Linked DNA regions of Homo sapiens. The protein of the gene in region 2 interacts with the protein of the main gene of each other region in a pairwise test. Each region holds a gene or a part of one and is shown on either strand. Other genes may lie near its edges. The genes, in order: ZXDC and CBR4.

What was found.
Region 1: the proteins of CBR4 (region 2) and ZXDC interact in binary tests that used the Homo sapiens proteins (3 or more experiments, as listed by UniProt).

Annotation. Positions count from the first base shown.
Region 1 is NC_000003.12:126,469,967-126,481,909, forward strand, and holds the start of ZXDC (zinc finger protein ZXDC), read right to left. Parts: upstream 5,926-11,943; 5' UTR 5,900-5,925; coding exon 4,993-5,899; intron 2,340-4,992; coding exon 2,187-2,339; intron 2,086-2,186; coding exon 2,007-2,085; intron 1,060-2,006; coding exon 929-1,059; intron 1-928. UniProt on the Homo sapiens protein: Cooperates with CIITA to promote transcription of MHC class I and MHC class II genes.
Region 2 is NC_000004.12:169,004,640-169,016,285, reverse strand, and holds the start of CBR4 (3-oxoacyl-[acyl-carrier-protein] reductase), read left to right. Parts: upstream 1-6,030; 5' UTR 6,031-6,196; coding exon 6,197-6,338; intron 6,339-8,529; coding exon 8,530-8,650; intron 8,651-9,394; coding exon 9,395-9,531; intron 9,532-10,371; coding exon of another isoform or gene 10,372-10,401; intron 10,402-11,646. UniProt on the Homo sapiens protein: Component of the heterotetramer complex KAR (3-ketoacyl-[acyl carrier protein] reductase or 3-ketoacyl-[ACP] reductase) that forms part of the mitochondrial fatty acid synthase (mtFAS).

The DNA.
Region 1 (11,943 bases), on a different chromosome or scaffold from region 2:
TGACTGAGGCCACCACTTTAGGGAGCGGTAGAGCCAGACTTTGAATCCATGACCACCCGACGTGTCCTGGCTCACTGCCTCCCAGTGCACCTGCAGAACTAGAGTAGGGCCAGCACGCACAAGTCACGCACAGGTCACGCAGCCAATTTCTGGCAAATGAACTGAGCCTTCAGTGTTTTAAAGGAAAAAACCACTCTACTATACCTTTTAAAAAGTCAGGTTGGGCGTGGTGGCTCACACCTGTAATCCCAGCACTTTGGGAGGCCAAAGTGGGTGGATCACTTGACGTCAGGAGTTTGAGACCATCCTGGCCAACATGGTGAAACCCTGTCTCTACTAAAAGCATAAAAATCAGCCAAGCGTGGTGGCATACGCCTGTAGTCCCAGCTACTCAGAAGGCTGAGGCATAAGAATCACTTAAACCTGGGAGGCAGAGGTTGCAATGAGCCAAGATCACACCATTGCATCCAGCCTGGGTGACAGAGCAAGACTGTCTCAAAAATTAAACAAAAAAAGAAAAAGTCAGTCTAGCTTTACTGCTCTCCAATTACAAAATGATTGGAGTGACAATTCAAACGTGATCTCAAAAGTACCTACCATTTACTGAGTCCGAGCTCCATGCCAGATGGATAAACAGGCATTTTCCACATTTCACCTAATCCTCACGACCACCAAATTAAACAGGTAACTTAACTAGAGCCACAGATCTAATGAGGATCAGGGCCATGAGTCAAACTGCGTCTGATTCTCAAGTCACTGCTCCCAAAATAGTACAATTAACTCAATGAGGTAAGTAAACATAATGCTGCAACTTATATTGAGTCAGTCTTTAAGCAGCTAACATTTACCTTTAAACAACGGAAACTTAACAGGATAAATGTTGGCATTGCACTTAGTTTACTGCTCAAAGCAATGTTTTAAAATCTACCTTCCACAGGACACTCGAACGGCTTTGTGCCTAGGTGGGTTATGCTGTGGCCTTTCAGATGCTCTGCTCTGGTGAATGATTTCCCACAGCCCTCGACAGGGCAGGTAAACCTCCGGTCATCGTCATGTTTCCTGCCAGACAGAAAAATAAAGGAGCTGTGATTCCTCACACAACTCACCATAATTCTTTAAAATTCTACAAAACATACCAAAACACAAACTTTGCATTTACAAAAATGATCAGTACATTTCGGAAAATCTTAATTCTGTCTTTAATCCATGTGAGCAGATTTGCAATTTAGCTACCCCATAAAAATTCTACTTTAATGACTAAGCTGACCCCAGAGTCACACATCAAACAATTAATGCTACTTCAATCTAATATAAGCTAATCTAAGAACAGTGGAGTCCCAAATGTATTGATGAAGGTGTTTCTATTGTTTAGAAACCCCAATGATCAACAAGCTTTCCGAGCGACAGACGGTCGTGAGAAATGTGCACAGAGCATCAGCTGCAATGCCAAAAGGACTCTCTTAAGCCAACTTGTAAAGACTGTGTCTTTTCCTAAGTGACATTTTTATATTAAATCCTCAGAGCCCAGCTGTGCAAGTACAGAAAAACCACTGAATCTCTCCGAGTCTCACTGTAAAACAGGGAGAATAAGAACATTAGCTTTGAGGTTGTTGGGAAGGTAGAAGACACACATGTAAAGTGCTGAGTGTCACCTGGACACAGTCTCCAGGGTTGTCATTACCACCATGAAAACTTGTAATTACATGAAGAAAGCTTATTCTACAATGTTAAGTTAAAAAAAAAACCTGGAATTGTTTTTTTTTTAAGAACAGAGTATGCCAATTTAGCTTTTTTTAAAAAAAGTATACACAGAAAAAACTGACTTCAGGTGATGAGATTCTGAGCAATTTTCTTTTTACAGTTTTCTGAATTTTCCAAATCATCAACACTGAGCTCCTTTTTTAACAACTTAAAAAATGTCTACAGATATTTCATTCATTGGTTTCTGCTGCTGACAAACCACTCATTTTCAAACCTGATAATGCAAACCAAAATGTAAGGATTACCTTCTGTGCCTTAGAAGTTTGGACATGCTGGTGAAGGTCCAGCCACAGCTGTCAGAGTCACAAATAAATGGTCTTTCACCTTATAAAAGAAAAAATTATACAGCATAAAATTTACAACTCCAACAGCTACGATGAAGACAAATCTTGGGTCCAAATGCTGTGCGTTCCCTAGCTCATTACCTGTATGGCTCCGCAGGTGAATTTTCAGCCGACAGGCTTTATCATACTGCTTGCTGCACCCAGGAAAGGAGCAGGAAAAGAGCTCTTGTTCCCTGAAGTGGGCTCGGTTATGGGAAAACAGGGCACTCACTGTGATAAATGTCTTCTCACAGCCTGAACAAGGAAAACACAAACCCTGCTCAAAGCGTGGCAAAAATTATACAACATAGCTAATGCTAGTCACACCCACCAGACCCTGTTCACACTGAAGCAGACAAGGGAAAACATGACTCAGAAGCACTCTCTAAAAAGGGAAGACCATTAATGCTTGGCTTTGTGATCACCACAGGAAGGCAGCTAATGGCAGCCAATAGGCACACGCTGGCCACCTGTTGCAACATGACTTGGAGATGGAGCAACCGATAAAGAGAAAGTCCTCCGTTCACAGCCATCTACTGGCCGGCTCCGGAGCACTGATCCTGCACACACACTGAGACCCAAGAACCCCATGAGAGAAATCAAATACTAAGGAACAAGATTTTGTCTGGTAGGGTTGATCTTTGAAAGGCTACAAATCATCCTACTAGCCAGGATTTTTCACCCCTTGGGGGTGATGCTGCATCCTCTACATATCCAAATTTCCTCCCTGACACCCTCCAACTGCCAGCCCTGTCCCTTGCTGTTTGGATTCTTTTTCCTTTCGCAATTTCCTTAGGTTCCCTGCTTTGTAATCTTCACCTCAATCCTAACCCCTGGCCAAAGCAGCTAAGCCTCAACAATTCCACAGCAATACTTCTCCTCCGACAGAAACATTCAGGGCTCCAACAGGGTGGAAAACATGAGGCTGCAGGATGTTTAACAGGAGTCTTTGCTGCAGCTCCTCTTGGAGCCTTTAACGAGATACTATCATGCCTATGAACTGCCACACAGATGTACATGGCATAGCACTGCCCAAAAGTATCAGCCCAAGGAACCCTACTTTCCCCAGCAACATCTAACTCAGAAATGCTGATCTTTGGCCTCAATCTGGTCCCAAAATACCTCCAGGGTATTTTGGGCTTCGGTGTGTTCACACACTTGGTCATGTAAATCTGAACACAGACTCTCTCTGCCTTGGCAAGAACCCCCCACACCCCCATAGATAATTACACCCTTTGGTTCTCCCTCTGCAATCTCACCTGCTAGAGACCCTCATCATTCCCACTCCCTGGCTCAGGCCTTCAGAAAACTCAGGTCTGGGCCCTTTGATGATGCTTCCCTGGTCCTGCTCCTGCTTCTAAACATCTAATCTCATCTAACCATCTAATCTCATCTCAACACAAGAAGCCTCATGGATCAGCCAACACAAAACCCTCAAGAGACCTCATGCCTGGAAGCAGGCGGGATCCCTGACCTTCCCAGTGTCATACACAGAATGATACTCTTTTAGCAGGGAAAGGGTCTACAGCCACCATCAGATTCCCAAGAGTGTATGACTGAAAAAGACTTTGAGCTAGTGGCCTCAAGCCACATTCTCTCTGAAGAGGAATGCGCAAGACAGTCCACAGGCATATGCGAGGGAAAAAATAATAAAACCCGTTCATAATTCTCATCTCATCCTTTAAAAATTCTTGTTTAAGGACATTATAAGGAGAGCCGTGTGCATATACAGGTTAGGGGCATGCTAGGCACACATTCCAGTTTCTGTTTGAATGACTGGTCCTTCCTCCTGGGCCCTCACCACAGACCACAATCCCCACCTGGGCTCTGCCACCCAGCCGACTCCATTCTTCTGCCTTTCCAGGGAGGAATCCTTTCTTGCCCTTCTGGAGGAACCCTATCCCTGTGAAAGCAGGGAAAGCTGCCCATCCTGGTGAAGAGCTCACTGTGTTGGAGTCCTACATTCCCAACAACTGCAGGTCAACACACAGGAGAAAGAACAGGCAGTGGACTTTTTTTTTTTTTTTTTTTTGAGACGGTGTCTCGCTCTGTCGCCCCGGCTGGAATGCAGTGGCGCGATCTCGGCTCACTGCAAGCTCCGTCTCTGGGGTTCACACCATTCTCCTGCCTCAGCCTCCCGAGTAGCTGGGACTACAGGCGCCCGCTACCACGCCCGGCTAATTTTTTGTAGTTTTAATAGAGACGGGGTTTCACCGTGTTAGCCAGGATGGTCTCGATCTCCTGACCTCGTAATCCGCCCGCCTCGGCCTCCCAAAGTGCTGGGATTACAGGCGTGAGCCACCGCGCCCAGCCACCAGCAGTGGACTTTATCCACAAGGCTCGGCCTCTGTCTCTTCATCTGTAAAAGAGGACAGTTTTTAACCTTCACAGACGGCTAATTTTTAAAACTTCACAAAACTGTGAGGTTCAACGGAAATCAAAGTGCAAAAGGCAAAAAAAGCCAGGATGTGCGCACACCTGTGGCTATCCTCCCAGCGTGTTAAGGTCCTGAATCTGGCCACATTCATCTCTGCTCCTCTAGCACGGAGTGTGCACCCCGTAAACAAATGACGAGACTGAGGAAAATAAAGACCTGACACATAGCTCCGTGCCACTCTGTGAAGATGCGTGCCGCTTTCATCAAGCACAAGCAGGTTAAGGATATCTGTTGCCGCCACCTTTGGGAAGCGCAGCTGTGGTGATCTGCGCTACCTGCCATCGGAATCCCTGCGGCAGGGCAGGGCCAAGATCTCAAATCGAATGACATGGAAGGAGCTAGAATACAAATCCCGAAGAGCCTGCGTCCCCGGCTTGCTAAGGTCTGGCAGGCCCCTCTGTGGGGCGGACGTGGCACCCCAGACCTGCCTGCAACACCGCGCAGCCCGCCCGCCCCCGAGAGCGCGGTTACCGGGAAAGTCACACTTGTAAGGGCGCTCGGGCTCGAAGTGGCTGCGCTGGTGGGAGCTGAGCTTGGCGTGCGTGGGGAAGCGCTCGGCGCACACCTCGCACTTGAACAGGCTCTCCTGCTCGTGGCCCTTCATGTGCGCCTTGAGGTTATAGACCGTAGTGAACTTCTTGCCACAGCCGCCCACTGGACAGCCGAAGGGCCGCAGCTTGTCGTGCGACTGCAGGTGCCGCTTGAGCTTGTAGGACGTTGTGAAGGCCCAACCACAGCCCTCCAGTGGGCACTTGAAGGGCCGCCGGCCCTGACCGCCGCCGTGCGTGAGCAGGTGCACCTTGAGCTGGTGCTTCTTGGCGAAGGCCAGCGCGCACTGCGGCTCGGGGCAGCGGTAGCCGGGCGTGCTGGGGCCGGAGGCCTGGGGCGCGCGGCGGGGAGCGGCGGCGCCCGCGGTTGCGGGGCCGGGCGGCGCAGACAGCGCGAGGACGCCGCGGTCGAGACGCACCAGCAGGTCCTGGCTGCTGATGGTGACGGCGCCCGCCGGGGCTACGCCAGGGCCGGGGGGGGCGGCCGGGCCGCTGGGGCCCTGCTCGGGGCGGCTCGCCAGGTTGACACGGGAGCCAGGCTCGGCCTCCTGTGATCCGGCAGCCTCGGCGGCAGCGCCGCCGTGCGGCACTTCCAGCAGCACCAAGAAAGAGTCGCCGTCGCTGTCGTCCTCGGCGGGCGGCGGGCTTGGCCCGGAGGCCTCCCCGGGCCGCGCCCCGGGCCCGCCATCTTCAGGGCCCCGCACCAGTAGCAGGCGGCGGCGCGCGGGGCTCGCGCCGAGCGGCGCTGGGGCTCGGCGGAGCGGGCCGGGGCCGCCGCCATGTTGCCCTCCGCGCGCAGTCGGGGCGGGGAGCAGCGCCGGGAGGTCCATCTTGGTCCCAGCGACGGCGTCGGAGCAGCTTCGGACGCAGAGCTGCCCGCGCCCCGCCCAGGTGTGCGTGCGCCGCCCCGGGACGCGATCCGCGCCAAGCCCCGGCGTAGAGTCCGGCTCGGAACCGCGCGTGCGCGGACGCCGCCGGGCGATGCGCGAGGCCTGCTGGGCTGACGTGACGTGAGGCTGGGCTGCGGGGCGCCGGAGGCGGAGGCGGGGGCGGGGCGCCGGGACCGACTAGGGCGGGGCGCGGGGTCGGGGGGCGGGGCGCGGGGTCGGGGGGCGGGGCGCGGGGTCGGGGGGCGGGGCGCGGGGTCGGGGGGCGGGGCGCGGGGTCGGGGGGCGGGGCGCGGGGTCGGGGGGCGGAGCGCCGGCACCTACGAGGGCGAGCGGCGGGGCACGGGACCGACAGGGGACGGGGTGAGGCTCCCAACGCTGAGCGATTCCTTCTCGTTCCCGCTGGCGTGGAAGACGAGGCTTGTCTTGACTTCGAATCGTATTAATATTTCAGACACTTAACAGGCAACCTCTCGTAGGCATTGACTGCGTCCCAGGGGCTGTACCTGTCCGAGCTGATTAAGCGTGCGCGGTCACCCAGGGGTGAGGAAACAGGGACGGCGAGCTCGAGTCACTCGGCAGCCGGCAGATCCAGGATTCGAACCTGTCCAACAGGCCGGACGCCTACCCCCAGCTCACTTAAGTGCAAGCTCGCCTGCCGCCGCTGGCGCACAGACCTCGTTTGCTTTGGCCCAGGTCCTTGCTCGGCACACGGGGCCTCCCTGATACGCAGGACCCCTGCCTGTATTTCCAACTGTATTTCCTACTAAACTTGGCACAACCTCACTCTGCAACAGCTTAATTACTTACTGTTTCCGGTCCTCACCCTCCCCCACCTCACCGTACACCTCCGCATTCAATCTGGACTCCTCCACTTCAACTTCACCACCACTCAGATCCAAACCCGCACTTTATTCCTGGGTACCTGAAAAATAACTACTAGCTGGTCATCGGTCTCCCTCCGCTCCACTCGCTCCCATCCACGGGGCACCGTTTTATGATCTAAAAATTGCACATCAAATTATGCTCACCTCCACCTTGCTCCCGAAGGCGCCTATGGCCTTGCTAGTCTACCCTCCCCTACCTGTTTGCCCTCACTTCCCGCCACTCTCCCGCTGCCCCCCCCACCCCTCCCCCGCACCCCACCTCTTTTTCCCAGTTCATCCAGCAAGCCAAGCTGGTTCCAGCCTCAGAGACTTGGCGCAGCTGATCTCTGATTCCTCTGGGAGGACTCTGCGCCCCTTCTGATCCAAAGCACATGCTTACCCAGTCCCGTATTCCCACCTCTGTCTGATCTGTTTGCTCTTAGAGCTCTCATCACCCGTTGTTTTGTTGAGTTCCTTCCCTGCTCCTTCACTGTCTCTCCCTCTCTGGAATGTAGGCTCCTGGAGCCCAGGAACTGTGTCCTATTCACTGTGTGTGCCCAGGAAGACTCTTGGTGCATATTTGTTAAATACATGAATGCTTTATTATTAAGAGTATTTTTTTAAGTAACACAAATTATAATATTAAAAAGAATAGGATACATCTATTATATATATCAGTTTATGCCGAAAACATATTGTTCCTAGACCATTCAGTAGAGGAAAGAATAGTCATTTCAATAATGGCGGCACTGGGACAACTGGATCTCCACATGCAAAAGAACCAATTTGGACGTGTATCTCTCATCAGAGGCAAAAATTAACTCAAATTAGAGCAAAAGCCTACACGTAAGACATAAAACTATTTGAAGAAAAGTAGGTGTAAATCTATGTGACCCTGGATTAGGGAATAGTTTCTTAGATATAATATTGAAAGCACAAGAAAGAAAAATAGATAACTTGGACTTCATCAAAATTAAAAACTTACTCAGGTAAAAGGACACCAATAAGACAGTGAAAAGACAACTCAGAATGGGAGAAGGGTGTGCAAATCGAATATCTGATAAGGATCTACTATCTGGAATATATAAAGAACTCTTAGCAAGAAGACAAACAGTCCACTTTTTTAAAAGGCAAAGGTTTGAATAGACATATTTCTCCAAAGAAGATAATACAAACAGCCAATAAGCAAATAAAAAGAGGCTCAACATCACGAATCATTAGGGAAATGCAAATCAAAACACAGTGAGATACAACTTCACACCTACTCAAATAGTGGTAATTTTTTTAAAAACAGGATATAGAAAAATTGGAACTCTCACATATGGCTGGTGGGAATGTATAACGTTGCGGTGTGGAAAACAGTTTGGCAGTTCTGCAGAAAGCTAAACATAATCTCCACATGACCCAGCAAGTCCATCCCTGTGTTGCTGAGGCTGGAGTGTGGTGGCTATTCACAGGTGCAATCATAGTGCGACCTCCAACTGGCCTCAAGCAGTCCTTCCGGGTCAGCCTCCCAATTAACTGGACTACAGGCATATGCCACCATGCCCAACTTGTTGCGCAGCATTGATTATGCCACATTCTCGTGATCAAAGAAGTCATAAGACACTGCAGACCCAGGCAAGGGGAACTTGTACTCCACCTCTCAATGGGAGGTGCTGGAAAGAATTTGCAGCCATTTTTAAACTATCACAACTTCTCTGTGCCTCAGTTTCCTCATGTGTAAAATGAAGGGGACTGAGAAAGAAAAAGGGCAGCCCCTGCCATCCAGAAACTGGCCGGGTGCTACAGCTGGGCCACTCTGTTCTGTAAGACTTGAACCATCACGCAGAAAACCAACCTAGGCCAAGGTCACTGAAACACAATGACATGAGACAAAGCAAGGCCACTTCATGATGTGTCTCCACCCAGATAAAGCGAGGTCACTTGCTGTGCCATTTACAAGATACCCAGCAGCCCCTCTCTCAGCTAACGTGAGCAGCCGCCGCTTTTGTACCCCTGACAGCCTGTCTGTCTGTGTGCTTCCCTCTCTGTATATAGGATTTAGTCAGAAACCTAGTCATGGTGTTGACCCGATTTCTGGTAAGAGCCAATCCAGAGCAAATCCCCGCTTCCTAAGACTCCCCCACCCAACCAAAGCTCAAATCTGATACTAGGTTGTTTCAGATACTAGGTTGTTTCAGCCTTCTGCTGAGATACCCTGAAAGGAGCAACAGGACTCCTGGCGAGGGTCAGACGCGCCACTTCACCAGGTGGGCTTGAGTCAGCTCAATGTGGTCATCCAGTGGGGCTCAGGCAGAGACTTGAACTTGGTAGTCTCAAAGGAGTGCCCCAAATTACAAGGACCACAGAGATTGTGCCTTGGCCAGCCAGACCTGTACTCTCCAGGCTGTGTGGAAAGGATTTTGGAGAAGCCAGGGGAAGGGACGCAGATGACACACGCATGCACGCTCAGATTTATTTGTGTCTGGGGAGAAATCCCATCAGCCCAGGTATCGCTGGATGTCCAGCACCTCTTTTGGGCTAAAAGGCATCATGTGGATCTTGAGATTGCTAACAGAGAAGTGTCCAGGATTCCCAAATTTTGATGGGAGTGGGGATGAGGTTCACTGGGAGCAAAAGAGCATCTCTTTGTCAAAGGTCACAAGTTCAAATCCCAGCAGAGGTCATACAAGTCACACAAATGTGGGAGACAGGTGGGCACAGGAAACATAGACTCTCATGCCAAGGGACAAACAGCATACACGCTCCGCCTCACCATGGGTTCTGTAGGGACTGGAAGGGACTGTGGCCAAGTGCAGAGAGCTAGGCCAGCCCAGAGGGGCCCCCAGCAAATCACTGCCACAGAGGTGGTGAGAACATGGTGTTACCTTATATCTTGATTTTCAAAAAATAAGCTCTGGATTTCTCCCAATTTGTAAACATTGGTGACAAAGTCAAATTTTTTTAAAAACAGGACAGACCAAACAAAACACAACTGCAGGCTGAGTGTAGTGCTGTGCTCCTGTGGTCCCAGCTACTTGGGAGGCTAAGGCAGGAGGATCACTTCAGCCCAGGAGTTCAAGGCTACAGTGAGCCATGATTGCACCACTGCACTCCAGCCTGAGTGACAGAGCAAGATCCTATTTCTAAAAAATATATAAATAAAACATAACTGCAGGTCATGCCCGGCCCACAGGCCCCTGTGTGGTTGTCTACTCTGGGAAAACTGGAATGGGAGAGTGCATCACTCAGCCAGGCCCTCCCTCCCTGACCTTGGCTTGCCAGCAAGGAAAGCATACAGTTCCCAGGGACCCTGGGTTTGCAGAGAGCAGGCGCTGCCCAGGGGGAGGACCCTAATGCTGTACTGCAGGGCCTGAGCCTTTCTCACCTCCAACTCTTAAGGCAACTGAACCCTACACTCATCATGGCCAACTGGTTTCTCTTTTAATCATTTTGATGAAAACATTTCTAACTGGACTATACATCCTTGCCTTCTGAAAAAGAAGATGGCACTGGGCACATCAGAAGCCACGCTGTTCCTTCCATGGCGACTACAGCTGTGACCAGCTGCCCCAATTCCGCTGTGAGCCCCGTGGGAGTCAGCTGTCACTTACCACTGCAGCAGCAGACAGCAGGTTGGCATGCAGGGGCCAGGGAAGTAGCTTGCTCCCTGGCATGGCTTGGTATGGAGCCCAGAGGGGGTCTGGGGTCTGTGTGCAGCTGGAAGCCACCAGAGCCCTCCCTGTCCTTCAAGAGGGAAGGTGCTGGATGGGGAAAGGGTGATGCCAGGGCCCTGTGGCCCGCTCTTAAGATGTGTGCACAGATCCATGCAGCAGGGTGCTTTCATGGAGATGTGGGGACAGACGATTCGTCCCTACACACTCTGTCCTGTCTCTCTCACTATCTCTGTCTTTCTCTCTTTCTCTGTCTCTTACTCTCTCTATCTCTCTCTTTCTCTGTCTCTTCCTCTCTGTATCTCTTTCTTTCTCTGTCTCTTCCTCTCTCTCTGTCTCTCTCTGTGACTCTCTGTCTGTCTCTGCCCCTCTCTGTAACACTCTCCCCTCTCTGTCTCTGTCCTTCTGTCTCTGCCCCTCTCTGTAACACTCTCCCCTCTCTGTCTCTGTCTTTCTGTCTCTGCCCCTCTCTGTAACACTCTCCCCTCTCTGTCTCTGCCATGGAAGGATGCAGTGAGAAGTTGGCCTCACCAGGAATTACGCCAGCTGGCACCTGGTCTTGGGCTTCCAGCCTGCAAATGTGTTTCATTTCTGTTGTTTGGGCCCCAGTGCCAGACATTATGTGGCAGCCGCCCTAGCTGACCAACCTGGTTGCTGTGTTTCCAGGCCCCACATCTTGGTTCTGGCAGGACGAAGGGGCGAAGGCAAAAAGCAACCCCGCTGGATCTGTCCATTTTATTAGAAAAACGACGGCTCTCAAGAAGCCCTGCCCCACAGACCCCACCCTCATCTCGTGGGCCAGGACTAGGCCAACAGTCCCTCCTAACAGCAAGGAAGGCTGGAGAATCAGGTGGTTTTATTTACCCTATATTGCTGCCCACACAAAACTAGGCTTTTGTTCACAAGGGAAAGGGGAGAATGGCTGCTGGGGAGGAGATGCGGAGTGCAGGGAGGGTGGGGACCAAGAACCCGGCTTGGTCCTGGAGAGGGCAGTGGCCTGCCCCTCTCCAATCCACCGACATGTGGGGTGTCTGGTTTTCTGTGGCCCTCAGAGGCCCACCCACAGACTCTTTCTCATTTCTCTGTTTAGGATGAGTTATCTGTTGGTCTGTTGCACGCCCAGCTAAGAGAATGAGATTCATGAGCCCTGGCCCTGACAGAGGCCACTTCCCCCATCCCGGTGACCTCTCACGAGGCTCTGGACCCAGTCATTACCGGGCTATGGGATTGGGGAAGGGGTGCCAGACTCCAGCCTCAGGGGCCAGCAAAGGGTCCCCTTTGCTGTACCCCTCAGGCTGTGCTGGCCTAGGGGGGTGCCCCTGCTCTCTCATTTCTTCCCCAGTAAGTGATCATTTATCCTTAGGGCAGACCCGGCCTGCCCGTCCCACCAGCCCACAGTGCAGCACACAGCTCTGTTGACCCTTTATTTCCTGGTCTATCCTCCTTCCCGAACTCCTCCAGGCCA
Region 2 (11,646 bases):
CACAGACTGGGTGGTTTCGACACCAGAAATTAATTTTCTCACAGTTCTGGAGCCTGAAAGTCTGAGATCAAGGTGCAATCGTGTTGGTTTCTGGTGAGGCTTCTCTTCCGGGCTTGCAGATAGCTGCCTTCTCACTGTGTCCTCACATGGCCTTGTACAGGGAGGCAACAGAGAGAGAGAGAGACAGAGAGAGAGAGAGAGAGAGAGAGAGAGAGAGAGAGAGAGAGAGAGAGATTCCCAGCACAAGCTCTCTGGTGTCCTATTGGATTAGAGCCCTACCCTTAGAACCTCATTTAATCTTAATTATCTCCCTAAGGGCACTATCTCCAAATACAGCCACATTGGAGGTTAGGACTTGAACATATGAATATGGCAGGAGAGGGGGGAGCGGGGAGGGACACGATTCAGTCAATAACATACATTAATCCCAAGTGGAGGCTTATTTTAATTAAGTTTTGTGTATGGCCCAAGTTTTCTACTCTGCATAACTGTTTAATCAAAATCCAAACTGAGAGATGGGTCTCTGTAGCCTGTAGATGAGAAACAAAAAGCAGTGATCCTTAAAATGAGATCCCTACAGGCACACGGGTGCCTTCTGGAAATGCAGAAGCCATTACCTGCAAGTCAGTTTCAAATGTTAAACCATACAGTATCGATTCTGGCTTTCCCAGGTGACTTGCAAGAGTGAGAACGTCTTTCAGAGCCCAAGTGCAGTGAAGGCTGCCAGGCCCGTGCCTCTGATACAGATCTAGGAGTCTGAGTAGCCGCAGGGCCTGGATGGGAAAGGCTCACTTAAGTCTGGGAAATGCAGCAGGTGAGTTGAGAGCCACGTGAGACTATGCAGCCAGAAGGATAGAGGGGGGAAGGCCCTGAAACAAAGAGATGGAAATGGAATAGTGAGAGGCTGGGGTCAGAGGATTGAGGCCAGTCTTAAAACTAATTTCAGGAACACTGAGTTCTCCTCTTCTATGTGGCTTGGCAGGCGTGCTGCATTTGGGGCCTGATTTTAAGTATCCAGAGCTGGCTTTATACCATTATAAAATTTTTGGCTGGGAAAAAAAAAAGAGTTTCATAAAATTTCAGGCATTATGCTCTCCCATGGTACTTCCTGGTGAAATGTCCAACCTGTGATCTCATCTAGGCGTAATACTAACTCTACTTTGACTAACAATCTCTTTCATTATTAAGGGTGAATTTTTAATTCAGAATTTTATTCTTCATGTATAAATTATGTTATCACCTAGTTGGCTTTGTAACATAATGAATGGATAGTAGCTGTAGTTATCATTCTTTGCAATCTTTCTTTGTTATTATTCATTTACTTTATAGAACATTATGTCCTGAAAGAAGAAGCCTTCTCTGACCCCAGGCCTCCATATTGGATCAATGCCCCTAGTTATGATCCCTCCTAGCAGCCTGTACTTCTCCTTTATAGTTCTTCCCACCATTGGAATTAAATAGTGATGGCATGATTAATTGTTTAATGTCTGTCTTCCTTGCCAGATTATTTTCCCAACGAAAACAGGCACCAGGTCTATCTTAATCATAGCTGTATCGACACTGGTTCTTGCTTATAGCAATAAATTCCTTTTAAGTGAGTTATTTCATTCACTCATTGATTCATTTGTTAACTCATTTATTTAGCATTCACAAGCCCTAGGAACTGTGCTACAAACAGGGAAACAAAAACCAATGTGATCATTTCTGGATTCAAAGAGTTGGCAATTAAAAACAGAAAGTTTTTAACCATTTTATTTTATTTTTTATGTTTTTTTAAAAAAGATGAGGTCTCACCATGTTGCCCAGGCTGGTCTCAAATGCCTGGGCTCAAGTGATCCTGCCGCCTCCATCTCCCAAAATGCTGGGATTACAGGCGTGAGCCACTACACCTGGCACTTAACCATTTTAGGTGAAAGTTCCCCTTGAGAACCCAGTGAAGGAAGTGGACCCTCTTTCAAGAAGCTACTCATCTAAAAAGCACATGAGATTTTGTATTCAGCTTGGTAGGTTCACAGATCCTTGAGAATCTATTCACTATCTTCCTAAAATTATGTGGATTCTGACGTCACAGTAACTCCATGAAATACAGACTTGAAGACACATACAAGGTAAGAGGACGGGTAAAGAAGGACATCAGCATGTCCTCCTTTGGGTCAGGAGAAGCTTCCATTGCAAGAGATGTTTGAGCCACATTTTGAATGATAAATCAGATGTTACCAGGGAAAGCAGTGGGAGCATTCGAGGTTGAGAAGACAGTGTTTGGAGAAGCATGGATGTGTAGAAGTTGGAATGGTATTTAGGGAGTAGAATCAGCAGGACTTTGTGACTGATTGGATGTGGGATGTTGAGAGAGGGAAGGAATAAACTCCATGCTTCTGCCTTAGGCAACTGAGTGCCAGGTTTAGGTCTCGGTGGGCAGCCTCAGAGGCATAAACGCCAATTCAACAAAATAACAAGCTCATGGGCCACATTTTTTGTTCCCAATCAAAATGAAATAAACTTTTGTAAGTGATAAAAAGTACATTCCTTACAATTTAGATTACCCAGCAGATTGGATACAAGAATGCCAATGAGGAAATCAACATGCTTTTTAATCATAAAAGTTATATCTGTGCAGCCACACTAAGGCAGCTTTCTAATCTTTCTTCTTGAAAGAAGAGCATGGTCTGTATGGAGAAGTTAGCTGGCCACATGCAATTTGGGTCGTGCAGATTATCATCACTGCCTGAAGAATCCTGGGAGACTGCTTGCTGGCAGGAAGGGTTATGCTTCAATTATGGATCTGATAAGCTGGATGTGCTTAGTATGGTGCATTTGTAAAGAGGATTCTCAATGAATATTCAATCATAATTCATAAATTTCTTATAAATAAATTTTCCTGCATATTTGGAATCTTGGGCATTATAAATCTTGACGTATGAAAAAAATATTCATGAAAGGTACAACCCCCTTATAATTAGTTGCAGATTCAAATTTCGTATAACAGGGCAGTAGGCTTTAAATTACATCTTTTTCAATAACAGTTCCATTGGGATATAATTTGCATACGATACAATTCACACGCTTAAAGTGTACAATGCTTTCAATGAGTTTTTATTTACTTTAAAAAGTTTATGTTTTCTAACTGTTAGCAATTAAATGGTATTCCTTTTGTAATCAGAAAAGTAATACTAGGTATGCATATTTAAAAATTTGTATAACAGTCCTTATACATAAGGAATTTTCTCCTTCGATTGTGGGAGCCAAGAGAAAATATATCCTATGTGGATTTAAGTTAAAGTATAACATATGGTTAAAATATTACCACAAAAGTGGCATGTTTAGTGAGAAGGAAAGACTAAAGGTGGGTCATTCTAATGGCTTCCTTCAATGTCCTGCTGGGTAGGGGAGACCCAGTTTAATTTACAGATCCTCACTTCACTATCAGGGGCTTACAGAGAAACTTCCCCTGCTGTAACCTTCTCAGCTAATGGGTGATGTGCTGTGATAGATGTATTCTCACCCGGGATAGTGGTGATATTGTATTAAGAGGGAAAAAAAATAAATAATAACCTTGAGGTTTAACCTGAGGTATGTGTTGAATAAAAAGCCCAGCTTATCCATTTACAGTATATATACAGTGAGAAAAGTTGGAAGGTTTTCAGAATTCTGAATGTCACCTCATATCATGTGTTAGTGATCTTCATGATAGATGGCATAGATCTAAAAACCATTTTTTTTTGCTAAAATAACAATGTGTAGAAAAAAAAATAATCATTTTCCTAGCAAATGGAGAGAACTGTTCAAAAGATAAACCTCTCTGGTTTGACCTAAGGTGCAGGAATACAGTTGGCATTTAGGCTGACCCTTATATTGGTAATTTATGTAAAACAGTTTTTTCTTTCCAAGATTGCATAGTGTATAGTAGGAAAGTGAATAGACAAATTTGATCTGACCCATTTTTACATCACTGGGAAACTGTTTGTTTGTTTTTTAGAACACTGTTATTTTGAGACAGGGTCCTGCTGTGTCATGCAGGCTGGACTGCAGTGGTGCAATCATGGCTCACTGCAGCCTTGACCTCCTGGACTTACATGATCCTCCCAACTCAGCCTCCCGAGTAGCTGGGACCACAGGTAGGCCACCATGTCCAGCTAATTTTTTTTTGTATTTTCTGTAGAGATGGGGGTCGGGGGGGTGGGGGTCTTGCTGTGTTTCCTGGGTTGGTTTTGAACTTCTAGACTCAAGCAATCCTCCTGTCTCAGCCTCCCAAAGTGCTGGGATTACAGGCATGAGCCACCACGCCTGGCCTGCTAATAGTTCTTAAATGCAGCTCTTATCTTATTACTTCTGCAGTTAAAGGCCTGTTTAATGCTTGGCACCTGACTTTAAAGCTGACTATAATATAGCACCATCCCAAATTTCCTCAGGCTTGTTTCCTCATTGTTTCAAACATATATTGTTTCAAAGACACAATTTTTATGTGTGACTGTTTGCTTATATTGTTTAACTTCCTATTGTATTTGCTTTTAATAAAGTCTAATAGATGCTATGAAAACAGCCTTACAATCTCTTTTTCTTTTCATGAAGCTCACTGTCTACTACAATGCTTAGTGTGCCATTTAGGAGGACCTATGAGGAGGGAGTTTTGCTCAGGCTTCTCTGCTGCATAACCAGGAGGCTGATTTCTTACAGAAATTACCACTTGTAATTATATTTCCTTTGTTGCTTTCGCTGGCAGGAAACTCTAAGTTTATGAATCTCTTCTTTAATACTAAATAGATTCTTATAGCATGACTTTATTCGTATTTTTTCCACTGACCTAATTTATTGTTCTGGCCTTGTGGGAGAAGGGGCAGTGGTCCTCTTTGCCTTTTAAATTCAAATACTCATGTATTTTTGCAAACCATTTCAAATCTTTTTTTGGATCTAAATGGAATAGGAATAACAAATTTAAATTAATGCTCAACTTGCTTATTTATAGACTTTTTGCTCTTGTTTTCCTTTTTTCAAACCTCATCCAGCCCTCAAATCCAGCTTTTCCATGCACCCCTTCATTCTTCACTGATCTCCATTTTCTCGGAGCTCTTGTGTTAATATAATTTTGCATTTTACTAAGTATGATTTTGGATACCTCCTAGTGTTTCATGTGTATTAGTCCTGTAGTTCTGGGTTGTAGTTTTTTTAGTGGTAGGGACCATGGCTCATACTTTTCTGAATCTAGTAAAATAATATTGTATCAGAAATGCTTTCTGTTTACACTATAATTGTAACAAACATTGAATTTTTTAGCTTATTAACTCTCAGAGCACCCAGTACATCTTATTTAGAATTGCAGGAACCCATTTTTGTTTCTCTACAGCAGCCGAAGCTTGTTTCATAGATCTTGCAAGACTATTCAATCATTCAGTTAAAATTCCTTGACCTCCTGCTGGATGATGTTCGACAGGGCATTCATCTTCACGACACCCTTCGCGATGAATGGTAACATCTGGGCGGGTAGAGGTCCATTTCTACAGCAACCTGGGGGAGGAACAGGTAGGGTAGGTTTTGGTGTGGGTGCGATTCTTGGGGACTTCTTCAACAGGTAGGACATCAAGTCTGTAGCCAAAACAACACCTGGGCGAAGGGCAAATACCGGAGCCCCGACCGGCTCACGCCCAGTAATGCTTTCTCTGGGTTCTAACTACGTGATCAGGTCGTCTTGGTTTGCCAGGGAAAGCCCAGCGTCTTGACAACCCTGTCAGTTCCGAACAAACCGGGTCGATTGGTCACCGGGGCTCGAATCCCGACTGATATGACCCAGCGGGGACAGAGGATCCCCCTCAGTGCCACAAGTACATTCCCCACCGAGCAGCGCGCCTGCGCCAGTTGCTCTCATGCGTCAAGACTACAGGTCCCAGCAAGCATCGAGGCCCTCTCCAGGCCATTCTTCCGCCGGCGGGGAGCTCTCGTCGGCGTATTTGTTAGGTGTGGCGCGGAAGAGTCCGTGCGTGATGACGTCGACGCGGCGACGTCGAGCTCTTCCTCCTTTTCACGGCGTCTTGCATTACTATTGTGCGGCTGCAGGAGGTGTCGAGCGGCGTTATTTTTTTTTGCGGTTTGCCTTTTTTTTTCTTTTTTTTTTTTTTGGAACCGCGGTTGTTTAAAAGCCTGAGGGAACCTGGAGAGGGGCTCCCACTCCCTACCCTCTTTCCTCCGAGTTTGTGACTCCGAGATGGACAAAGTGTGTGCTGTTTTTGGAGGCTCCCGAGGCATTGGCAGAGCTGTGGCCCAGTTAATGGCCCGGAAAGGCTACCGACTGGCGGTCATTGCCAGAAACCTGGAAGGGGCCAAAGCCGCCGCCGGTGACCTCGGCGGTAGGTACCAAACTGGAGTTGTCCAGTTGTATGGCCGCGGTCCAGGCGCCTAAAGAAAATCTCCTTTGTAAAAAGAGCGGGTCTGGCCTTTAGGGCTCTAGGGTTACTCGATGTAGCCGCGTGCAGGCGCTCTCCCGTTCCAAGGGTAGAATGCGTCTCGTGCAGAAACCCGCGATCTCCCTATGCCTCGCAGAATGCCGGCCACGCAGCTTGCCGCCGAGGGCTGAACACTTGGGGTGTTCTTTGAGACCTCGTAGTCTTTTGAGGCCCCGCTATACGCACCCTCCGCCCTGCGGCTAGTGCTAACGCTGAGGAGCTTCCCTGTTGTGGGAGAGAGCCACGTAACAGTTTACTTTTAATGTAGGGAAAAGGGCGAGTTCTCGGCCCCCGGAGACAGGGCTGGGTCGAAAGGAGTTCAGGCAGGAAAGGTGGGAGTGCAGGTACCAACGGCTCCCTTCAGTTTTGCCCAAGGGCCGTGCCTTGGCCCTGCGCGAATGCACAAAGCAGTGTTTGATAGAGAAACCCTTTTGAGTACCAGCCAGTTTTGAGATATACCTGGTTTGCTTTAATGTTATTAAATTGTTTTGGTGAGTTTTGCAAATGGACAATTGAACTTTGTTCTGCCAAATTCTTTTTTATTGCATTTAAACTTCAGGGTTTTTTATTTCCGGCTTATTATGAATGGATTAGTCATTTTGTGAATATAACTCTTCATTGAGTTTAGGGAGAAATAGGACGTTAGATCCGAAGATGCTATTTGTTTAATCACCAGAATGGACAAAATTATACTTCATTTACTATCAGGGAGGCATGGGGAGAATAGAGGCCTAGGGGTGCGTCTTGTGGCTCTTACTGTTTTTGTGTATCTGGTTTTTTTTTTTTTTTTTTGAGAGGGCTTCCCATTATGTTGCCCGTGCTGGACCCCAACTCCTGATTTACTGGCTCTAGAGATCTTCTCGCCTCAGTCTCCCAAGGACCTGGGACTATAGACGCCAGGTGTGGCTGTTCATTTTTAAGTTAACATTATTGATCGGTTTGGTATCACCTGTTCAGTGCTGGTTGGGAGACTATTGGGCTCTCTAAAAGAAAAAAGATTCTGTAAGTTATAGGTCAGGGAGAGTGTCAGTGAATGCTTCTTGAAGCTCATATTCCTTACCATTCTAACAAAGGAGGGGAAGAGTGGTGACCCTTACTGTGTCACCCCAAGCCATCAGTGTTTGCTGGACTGGATTGAAGCCATTAGTTGGGCTTTCAAAGGTGGTTGTGGACACAAGTCTTCGGGTGAAAACCAAGAGTAAGAGAGACACAGGATGCTTTTGGGCCCTGCATTCCTTTGAATCGTGTTCCATGAGTGATTGGTTTTCATCTAGAAAGTATAATTCCCCGGGTCGCTTACTGTTTCCAAAGGCTTGATGGGGTAGTGTTGGTGTAAGCATATTTATCAAGGTCAGACAGAAAATAAAGAATTGTTTTAGCTTTTAAAAACAATCCTACATTTTAGAGTATTAAAATGGTAGATTACATAGGGAATGCTTTGTTTTCCTTTGAAGTGTAGTTTTTTTTTGGCATTTAACCATTTTTTAAAAGTGGTAAGTAACAGTTGCTTTTAGTAAAAAGTGTTTTTTTCCCCCCGTGGTTTGTAGTTTTAGCATTTTTATAGCTTCCTGTGTTGTCTCATCTCTCCTGATGGTCAGGTTTGAATAATAGTCGTTATAATATATGTGCCATAGTGCATCCGTAGCACTTAAAAAGAAGAAACCCAAGAGTTCCCGTTCAGGGCCAAAGAAACTAATTCAACAAAAACCTGACAGAATTAGACATAAATTTCAAAAAAGGAATATAAAACCCAGAAGACTGTCGAATTGGGTAGCATGAATTCAGTGTTAAAGCTATAAATATTAGATGAATCTTACAGAGCCTTTATAACTTGAAAAAGCCCTCCCCCCTTTGTTGATTAAAAAGAAAATTTTAAAATTAACTTTCTGTAGTAGTACTTTATTTCCTCTTTGTTCCCGCATCCCAGTTTCATTAGACCAACTCTATGAAAGCCAGGCCTCATGACATTACTTTTTTAATCTTTAGGTTCTAGATTAGCACAGGCCTGCCATCTTAGATAGATGCTTAACAAATGTGTATTGAGTAAATTTAAAATTTGAGTTATAAGTAATTCTTATTTAACTTTGTTGTGTAGGAGATCATTTGGCATTTAGCTGTGATGTTGCTAAAGAACATGATGTTCAAAATACATTTGAAGAGCTGGAGAAACATTTAGGTCGAGTAAATTTCTTGGTAAATGCAGCTGGTATTAACAGGTTGGTCACAGATTTAAATAAGTTTCTTATATATATATTTAAAACTTTTATTCCTAATATGTCTTTGATTGGTATAAGTTAATATGTTTATTTTGCTTCTAACTGGGAGAAAAAACTATTTTAAAACTTGTCAATCCATAAATTATTTTCCTTTATATTGAGATACAACATATAATAAATGTCCAGTTGAGTCGATTTTAACATTGTAATCATCACCCATATTGAGCCGTAGAATGTTTCCAGTGCTCCAGAAGGTAGTGTCTTCTCAATACTTCCTTGTTGGTAACTGTTTTCTGAGTTTTGTCACCACAGATAAGTTTTGCCAGTTTGTGAACTTAATACTAATAGAATCATGGAGTGGATATTATTTTTTAAAAGATGAATTTAGGAGAGAATATTTAGATAACATATTAATTTTCTTGCTAAACAAGGCTTAGTATGGCAGTTGCTCAGGCCATTCAAACTATTTTGGCTATATGTTACTACTTTTTAGGGGTTAAGAATATTTGCCACTCAAGCTGAGAAGGGGTAGCAACCTGTCTTCCAAGTGGATCCTTTCTGGTTTATCAATTGTTATTTTAATGTTTCTCAAGCCAAGTTCAAAATGGGACTCTAGGTATTCTAGCTATTCTAGCTCAGATAGGAAGCACTTCTTGCACTCTCAGTAAAAATGTTACATTAGTCTTGACCTTTTTGGTTTTTATCTTGTTATTATATGCTATTATATGCTGTTTCTTTTTGTAGGGATGGTCTTTTAGTAAGAACAAAAACTGAAGATATGGTATCTCAGCTTCATACTAACCTCTTGGGTTCCATGCTGACCTGTAAAGCTGCCATGAGGACTATGATTCAACAACAGGGAGGGTCTATTGTTAATGTAGGTGAGTCTTCACCTTTGTGAATTTATGATTATCCCATAATACCATACCATAAAAATATTTAATCCACGAATTTGTGATTTATTGTGAAACATGAATGAAATTTATATTATCTGTGGAAAAAAGGATTTAATTAATTGATTAATGAGTAAAATAAGAATCACACATTCACATCCCTATAGGAGTCAGGCAGGTGTTAAATGAGTGACACCACTGAGTACTAGAAAAATGACAGTACCAGCCATGTGATAAATGATATCCAGCTTCATTGTCCAGAGCCCATATGGAATGGTGGAGGCCACCACTTAGATTCAGTAGATTGTTGCCGTGCAAGAATGTGGTCCCAGTTTTGCCAGCAATTTTGATTTTTCAAGAGAAATTGGATCATTCTGATTTTTATGTGAATTTTTTTTTTTTTAAATAGAGACGAGGTCACACTATGTGGCCTAGGCTGGTCTTTAACTCATGGGCTCAAGTGATCCTCCCGAAGTGCTGGGATTATAGAGGTGAGCCACGTGCCCAGCCAGGAACCTGATTTTTAAAACATGGACAAGGAATTAAAGTAGACAGTGGTGGCTAAATAATATTGTCTACAGCAGTTTCATGGGTTACTGTTAAATCTTGTGTAGAGGTTTAAAGGAAGATAAAATTTCTCTGTTTTTAAGAATGGATGTAAGTAACCCCTAGTTTTCAGTTCATCTAACCCACAGGGCAGATAAGCTGTGGAGTATATGCCTGTAGAACTTAAAATGCAAAATGACTTGAAATTTTATTTCAGTTTGGTAATTTGGAAATAATAGTATACCATCTGCTTTTTATTTTCAAATGGTAATACCTTAAAAGGCCACAGAAGGGAGATGCTGCTCCATAAAAGTAAGTGACCCTGTTCTTTTAAATGTAGGAAATGGTTTTTCAAGCCAGAATTTAGAGTTTTTCTGTTTTGAAAGTGAGAAAAGGAAAGAATACTATGCTAATAAACTAAGGGGACATGAGAGCATTTTGGACATTTACTCTTAAAAATTTAAGGGATCCGTTTTCTTATGTAAGAGATTAGTCAATGAGTCAACCTTTGCCTTTTAACACAGCCAGATAAGGACTTTGGATACTTACAAGCAGGCAAACAGGCCTGTATCTGTCACCTGATAACCTGAGGTATATTTGTTTAACTCTAAAATCTTCTTTTTTTTAGGTGTATTTAAAAAACCCATTAGTCCTCCTTATGCATGCAAAACTTTTAGAATTGAGCTAAAAGTAAATAATAGATAGTAAATTGAGAATCTTACTACAGGAAGGACTACTTTAAACTGCCAGACACTTCATTGGTATTTCAGAAATTACCACTTTTTGACCTGATGAACAGTAGTGCGTGGCACGAATCAAAGCTGCTAAAGCAGCTTGTGTTTTTTTTTCTTTTAAAAGCCACTCATATTTAGCAGTTGGGGGTTGTATACTAACTTTAGTGACACTACTGTTAATAGGTTCTGATAACCCGCTACCATCGGACCAGCCCTGTTTTGGTATTTTTTTCGTGCATGTATTTTTCTTTTTTTGTGTCTCTGTATTTTTCTTTCTGATAAACACCCCTCTATCCATATGCATTTCTTCAGTCTGATGTCTGTTCTCTCTGTGTACTTCACAGTTCTCTTCCTTTGTTATTAATTGGCCTACAATATATAATGTAGATAAATATTCTAATACTGAACTTGTTGATTCTAATAGAGAAATGTTTGGAATGTTTTCTTTTTTTAAAATTACTTTAAAAAAATTTTGTGAGGTCCTTGATTAATTTTTGTATCATAAGTACAGGTCAGTGGTGCAGAAAATTACTTCCCCACTTCTGTTTTGCAAGAGTTTATTTGCATATAGTTGATATTTGAATTAAAAATTATTATTACATATTCATTAGATGTGGTCACTCAAGAATCTTCAGTAGGCAGTACAGTTTACAATATATCACTGAATGTAATGAAATTGCACTTTTACAAAAAGTGTATAATTGAAGCTTTGCCAATTTAGATTGACAGTACAAGCATGTCTCGCAGATATTGTAGCTTTGGTTCTGCTCCACCGGAATAAAGCGAATATGTCAAGAATGTAAGTCACACAAATTGAATTGCT